Linked DNA regions of Homo sapiens: region 2 is reported to be linked to region 1. Evidence: microRNA targets listed by miRTarBase, many of them from high-throughput screens and not tested one by one. Region 1 holds a microRNA gene; the other region holds the end of a gene's coding sequence.

The links. The annotated mature microRNA hsa-miR-764 reads GCAGGUGCUCACUUGUCCUCCU and lies in region 1 at 2,535-2,556, shown strand. An mRNA with a match to its seed (bases 2 to 7 or 8) in the 3' UTR can be bound and repressed. Matches are read on the target gene's strand: a 7mer-m8 pairs with bases 2 to 8, a 7mer-A1 pairs with bases 2 to 7 and ends in A, and an 8mer does both.
Region 2: miRTarBase lists LTAP1 as a target of hsa-miR-764. Seed matches in the 3' UTR shown: 8mer at 2,056-2,063.

What each region holds. Positions count from the first base shown.
Region 1 is chrX:114,636,911-114,640,327 of GRCh38, forward strand. It overlaps MIR764 (microRNA 764), which reads left to right and starts at 2,525; the gene lies at 2,525-2,609. All of the region lies in intron 2 of HTR2C (5-hydroxytryptamine receptor 2C), which reads left to right.
Region 2 is chr1:154,204,777-154,208,193 of GRCh38, forward strand. It overlaps LTAP1 (lipid transport auxiliary protein 1), which reads right to left. Exons shown (of 7, transcript NM_001098616.3): 7 at 1,944-2,872. The coding sequence ends at 2,677. It overlaps CFAP141 (cilia and flagella associated protein 141), which reads right to left and starts at 1,557. Exons shown (of 4, transcript NM_001010979.3): 1 at 1,499-1,557; 2 at 822-862. The coding sequence starts at 1,531.

The sequences.
Region 1 (3,417 bases):
CACTTTTACACACAGAACACGTTGTAAACGTTGTTACCAGGGGTTTCCTCTCACTTTTGGTGTGGTTAGGGATTGGCAGGGAAACTGAAGTCCTTTCAGGAAAATATTCATAGTCAGTACCGTTTACTAATTTTTTAAAAAAATAAGTGAATTTTAAGTGTTAAGAAATTTCTACTAGCTTTCCACATAGATCTGTTGACATTTTTTAAGTGTATTTTTTTTTCAGAAATACATAATCTTGTAGGTTTAAGCCTGTAAATATACAGAGGCACTTTTAAAAGTGTTAAATCAGAGATATGAACAACTGAAAACTAACCAATAGGAGCTGGAAATAGAGTTGTAAGCAAATGGTTGGGAATCTGTCTTTTCAAATATACTGCATGAGAAATATAAATCAGTCTTTGTTTTATTCTGCCAGTCATATTAGAATATTCTACACCCTCAATCTATAAAGCACTCAAAACTTTGAAAACTTCTGACTAAACAAGGAGAAGTAGGAAGAGGAAAAGAAAAAAGCATATGGAATTGCTTGACAATGTGCTGAAATATTAAGCTGCAGACATCTCTGACTAAGTGTATGTGTAAAATAAAGACCAAATTTGAAAGTAGATTATTTATTTTGAAAATGAGCTCAATTATTTCAGGGTCTAGAAGCAAACACAACGTAAACCTCTACTCATCGTGTATGTGTGTCGGTATGTGTTAGTGTTTAATTACCACTGTGGCAAAATAAGAGCATGATCCAAATTCTGTGCCTCATCCCAGAACTTTCAGAGATTATTGACACCTTACAGAGTCATTGTAAAGGATCAGGTGCAGGAAGGAAAATTAAAATGCAAACTCACACTGACGTGCAGAGTGAGTAACCAGTCTTAGAAAACCTGAAAAGCCATGACATTGAGCAAGGCAAACTGGGTTTTAAACAGGCAATGGGAAGGCTTCGTTTTTTGCAATTGAAAAAAAAGCAAAATTCGCTAAGGGAGAGTGAGTGTAAACCTAAAAGAAAGGAAGCTTAATTGAGACCTACAAGATGGTGGGTATGTCTTTTTTCCCTGAGGAGCTATGAAACTTTTCAGGGACAGAAATAATAAGAAAATAGATCTGCATCCATTGTGGTTCAGGGTAACTGACTGGGCTCTTTGCCTAACTACTAGGCAACTTTGCTTAATGTAGAAAGAAATGACTCAGGTTAAACAGAATGCTTCGCTGATTTTTCCAAACAAACCTACTTAAAGAATTTCAGAAACAGGGAGTTTCCTCTCAGATGAGCTAGTGAAAACCTACTCATGCCCCAAACAATGTAGTAAACACAAATTGAGAGCGAGCAACAAAATAGCCCGAGAGTTCAATATAATGTGGAAATTCATAATTTAGAAACAAAGTCTGTCATTTTTAATACCTTCAAACAGGAATTTAACAATGTCTGTCACTGTCCATCTTTGAAATGCAGAGGTATGAGATGTTATATAACCAAGATCTTTAGGTTAGCAAGCATATAGATCAAATATGTTGTAAATGGAATCCTTGTACAATTTTAAACCTTCTTAAAGTGATAATTTGTAATATGTTTTTGACCATTATGTAATACGTTTATTTATTTATTTATTTATTATTTTTTTCTTTTATTATTATACTTTAAGTTTTAGGGTACATGTGCACATTGTGCAGGTTAGTTACATATGTATACATGTGACATGCTGGTGCACTGCACCCACTAGCTCGTCATCTAGCATTAGGTATATCTCCCAATGCTATCCCTCCCCCCTCCCCCCACCCCACCACAGTCCCCAGAGTGTGATATTCCCCTTCCTGTGTCCATGTGTTCTCATTGTTCAATTCCCACCTATGAGTGAGAACATGCAGTGTTTGGTTTTTTGTTCTTGTGATAGTTTACTGAGAATGATGATTTCCAATTTCATCCATGTCCCTACAAAGGACATGAACTCATCATTTTTTATGGCTGCATAGTATTCCATGGTGTATATGTGCCACATTTTCTTAATCCAGTCTATCATTGTTGGACATTTGGATTGGTTCCAAGTCTGTTATTGTGAATAATGCCGCAATAAACATACATGTGCATGTGTCTTGTAATACTTTTGTAGGTTTCAGTAATATTCTACAAGAAGAATGGATAACCTTAATGATCTCGAATATTTCTGGTTTTACTTTTGCTTGAGCAGTTTCATAAATGAATATTTTACTTGGCACATTATTTTTATTATTAAAAGAAAAAGGGCTTCTCCTATTACAAAAAGTAGTTCTATAAATATTTTGATCAAATTTTTAAACTATGTGACAAAACAATGTGAAATAAATATTTCAAATGCCATTTATTGATGAGTAAATTGTAAATATTGCTAAATTCCATTTACAAATTCTTGGAGGAACTTGGTTTTTAAAGGAAAACATCATGATCAATGTATGGATGTGCTCATTAGGAGACTCTTGGCCTTTTTCAGAAGGTTATACTCTGCCATAGTATAAAGAATCCTGGTGTGTTCGGGTGATATTTTCAATCTAAAATCTAGGAGGCAGGTGCTCACTTGTCCTCCTCCATGCTTGGAAAATGCAGGGAGGAGGCCATAGTGGCAACTGTTACCATGATTAATTTCGTTGGGATAGAAGATGGACCCGCTGGTTGTAATCAATGCATTGAGGACTCTCAGATCAGTGGGACTGTGAAATTTTAAACTCCTCAAGGTAGAACACAGTGGTAATGTTTTGAAATTTAAAGATTTTGAAATGCAAGCTACTTTTCTCAGGCCATTTCTTCTAAACAACACAACATAATGTTTAAGCCATGTGTTGTTCACAGATTATAATGTTGCAGTGATAAAATATATACTCCATTGGCAAAAATAAACAGCGGTAAAGGGACTGAGATTCTTGATTTTTAACTTTGTATTTAACCTTGTGTAATGCTGCCTGGAAAATTTTTGTAAAAGTATGAATAGATGTAAGAAGATTAATATATTATTACTGTATTTTACAATCTTTCTGTCCTTGAGTTTGAAGTATATTACAGGTTAAGGTTAAGCCAGGAAGTAAGATTGCTTTATAGAACTTTATAACTTTCAAAATTGACATTTGAAGAAATTGTGCTATACTATAATAGTGAAATAATAGTAATTACAAAGTAAATATAATCATCATTGAAATATAAATTTTCATACATTTTTTGTTCGACACATATTTATATAATACTTAATATATGAAAGGTATTTTCCATTCATAATCTATTTATCTTTAATGATAATCATTTTAGCAGTCTAATACTGGAAGTAGTATTTTCTTCAATTGACTGATGATAACGAATCCTCGAACCATAAAAAGTAGAATTGGATATTGTCAGTCTCTACATCTCTACTTAAATGTATTTTACATTCACTTTAAATGAAAACAATGAAACACATA
Region 2 (3,417 bases), not on the chromosome of region 1:
GTCTCGAGCTCCTGGGCTCAAGCAATCCCCCTGCCTCGGCCTCCCAAGGTGCTGGGATTATAGGTGTGAACCACCATGCCAGGCTTGCATCAGTGTTTTTTTTTTTTTTTTTGTAGAGACGGAGTCTTGCTCTGTCACCCAGGCTGGAGTGCTGGAGTGCAGTGGTGCGATCTTGGCTCACTGCACCCTCCGCATCCTAAGTTCAAGCAATTCTCCTGCCTCAGCCTCCCGAGTAGCTGGGACTACAGGCGCACACTACCATGCCTGGCTAACTTCTTTTGTATTTTAGTAGAGACAGGGTTTCACCATGTTGCCTAGGCTGGTCTTGAACTCCTGAGCTCAGGCAATCCTCCTGCCTCAGCCTCCCAAAGTGCTAGGATTACAGGCGTGAGCCACCGCGCCCGGCTGCATCAGTTTTTTCAAAAGTTCATCAGGGTGAAAAGGATACGTAGCCCAGTCTTGTGAATCTTCTCATTCACTGGTTCAACAAATACTGCACTACCAACCACATAATTAGTACAAAGCCAGGCAACAAATACTTGAATTCTTGATAAAAAAAGAAAATAAAAACATGCTTCAATTTTTCTCCAGAGAATGAGGCAGGGGACAATAAAAACCAATCTATATCACCTAACCTAGTAGGCACTAAGAGGCTGATCTCATTTGCTTTGAGGACAAGGCTGCTTCTCACCCCTTCCGCATCTGTTTTCCTCTTGATGAGCCCCTAAAGAGATGCAGCAGAGTTGGGAGGTGGCTCAGGGAAGACAGCAGAGTGGAAAGGTCAAGCTCAAAGGTAAAGGGAGGGGATAGAAGCAGATTACCTGTCGACCGTCTTCTTAAGTCCCATGGCCTTTTGAAAACTCTGCAAGAAAAGGTAGTTCTGTTGATCTGCCTCAGTCTCCAGAACCTCTATTCTAATGAGAGACATAGACCTTTTTTTTTTTTGAGACAGAGTTTTGCTCTTGTTGCCCAGGCCAGAGTGCAGTGGCGTGATCTCGGCTCACCGCAATCTCCGCCTCCCGGGTTCAAGCGATTCTCCTGCCTCAGCCTCCGAGTAGCTGAGATTATAGGAATGCACCACCATGCCGGGCTAATTTTGTATTTTTAGTAGAGATGGGGTTTCTCCATGTTGGTCAGGCTAGTCTCGAACTCCTGACCTCAGGTGATCCGCCCACCTCAGCCTCCCAAAGTGATAGGATTACAGGCGTGAGTCACCGCACCCAGCCACATAGACCTTTTTGAGAAAGCAATTTCCTGGGGGGAAATAGGGAGAGGAAAGCTCTACTTTCAGAATGGATCAAAGAAAACACGCAGGGGTTGGATAGAACACATATTTGAATACCTACTGTGTACTAGACACAGCCTCCCACTCCTGTTACTAACTACATTATACCCTTGTTACATCAAAAGCCTTTCCCAGTAAAAGATGCACTTATAGTAAATTGATCTGGAAACTTCATCAAACTTCAACCCAGCCCCTCCTTCCAACTCTGCATACCTCTTCTACTTTTGTCATCTTTTCCACAGACATGTCTATAGATTTGCTTGATACAGTCTGAGGAGACTGACAGGCTCCTCTGTTTAGTTCAGTAACCAAGGTTTCAGTAGTCATAGTAACATTTACACCTCCAACAATAACCCTGGGCCTAGGAGTTGATTGGCCACCTGGCCTGTTGCCCCAGAAACCTTGAGAGAATCCTTGTTCTGCAGCCTTCTGTTGGTGACACAGGCATCTATGAGCAAGGGCCACAGTCCTGATTTTAGGATTTCTTGTGCTAGGGTCCCAAGGAGTATGTGTATGGTCGTAGGTCCAGGGTATGCACACAGTCCCACCAATTCTCTGGAGGCAAATCCTCATGCCCTATACCCTGTTAGAAATGTGCAGATAACATTATCAAATGCCTGTTTTATTAAAAGACAACTATAAAGGACTGATTCATACGTTTTATTTGATAATAGTTCATTTTATTAAATAATTTATAAAGTCAGACCAGTGCATTGGGCTTGTTAGGGGAAACCATTCCTTCCTACTGTCACATAGCCTGGCAGATTATATCAGGTGCCAAAACATTCCCTTTTATTCAATTTATTAATGAGAGTGTGGAATTAAAGTAGATCCTTGCATGTCAGGAAAGCTGCAACACATCTGGTTTAAGTGGAGCACAAAGGTAAGTTATTCCACATTCACCAACTTCCCCACTTGACCTCCCACCAGTTCCTGTCTGCTTTTTCCATCAATCAACTCTAAGATGCCCTAAACCCAAACAGTTCCCATTCAACTGTGCACAAAGGTATAGATATGGAAGACATCTCACTCCAACTCTCACCTTTGGAATTAAATAAACCTGGAACAGGGAAGGTGAACTATGGCTGAAACCAAGTGAAGATTTTTAAGAAGCTTTGACAGAAACATTAAGAATAACACCTGAATGCAAATCCAGAAAAAAGCGCTACTGGGGGAAAATAGTCTTAGCCAATGTTCTAAAAATGCTCATAAGGAAGGGTTGGGGAATTACCCTTTAGACACAAGCTCTAAGAACTCTGGATACAACGGGAACTTGGATGGATACAGTCTGGGCCTGCTGGGCCAGATGTTCCGAGGGCGGCCCGGCAAGCAGCCTGTCTTGCACATTGCAACTGACTGGCTTAATCTACGGCAAGAGTCCTTCAGCTCCGTCACAGAGTACTCTCCAATGTGTTATAGTTATCCTTAAAGCTCTTCAATTCAAGGAAGTGCTTGGCACGTTTACTCTTCTGACTGGAGGGGAGGTATGTCACCTGGATGGTTGTTGGGGAGACCTCAGGGGACTGAGTTAGGTCTTTGGCTGCTGACTGGTGATGTCGCTGAGAGCTCCCAATTCGTGCTTTAACCCTGAAGAACAGAGAGGGGAGGTCATTGACAGAATGAGGACTAATCAAAGAAATCAGGGCTTATCCCAGGCCATAAATGCAGCAATAGTCACAAATAGTTATTTGTGTCCTATCTGTCCTATTTTGTAAACTAGTTACTAAAACCCCATCTAGTAGCTTAGAAATACAAGAGGCTGAGCGCGGTGGCTCACGCCTGTAATCCCAGCACTTTGGGAGGCCCAGGCAGGTGGATTGTTTGAGGTCAGGAGTTCGAGACCAGCCTGGCCAACATGGTGAAACCCTGTCTCTACTAAAAATACAAAAATTAGCTGGGAGTGGTGGCGGGTGCCTGTAATCCCAGCTACTCGGGAGGCTGAGGCAAGAGAATCACTTGAACCCAGGAGGCAGAGGTTGCAAGCCAAGATTGCGCCACTGCACTTCAGCCTGGGTGACAGAGCAAGACTCCATCTCAAAAAAAAAAAAAGTAGCAGAGAGGCTGGGCATGGTCACTTATACCTGTAATCCCAGCACTTCAGGAGGCAGAGGCCAGAGATCGCTTGAGCCCAG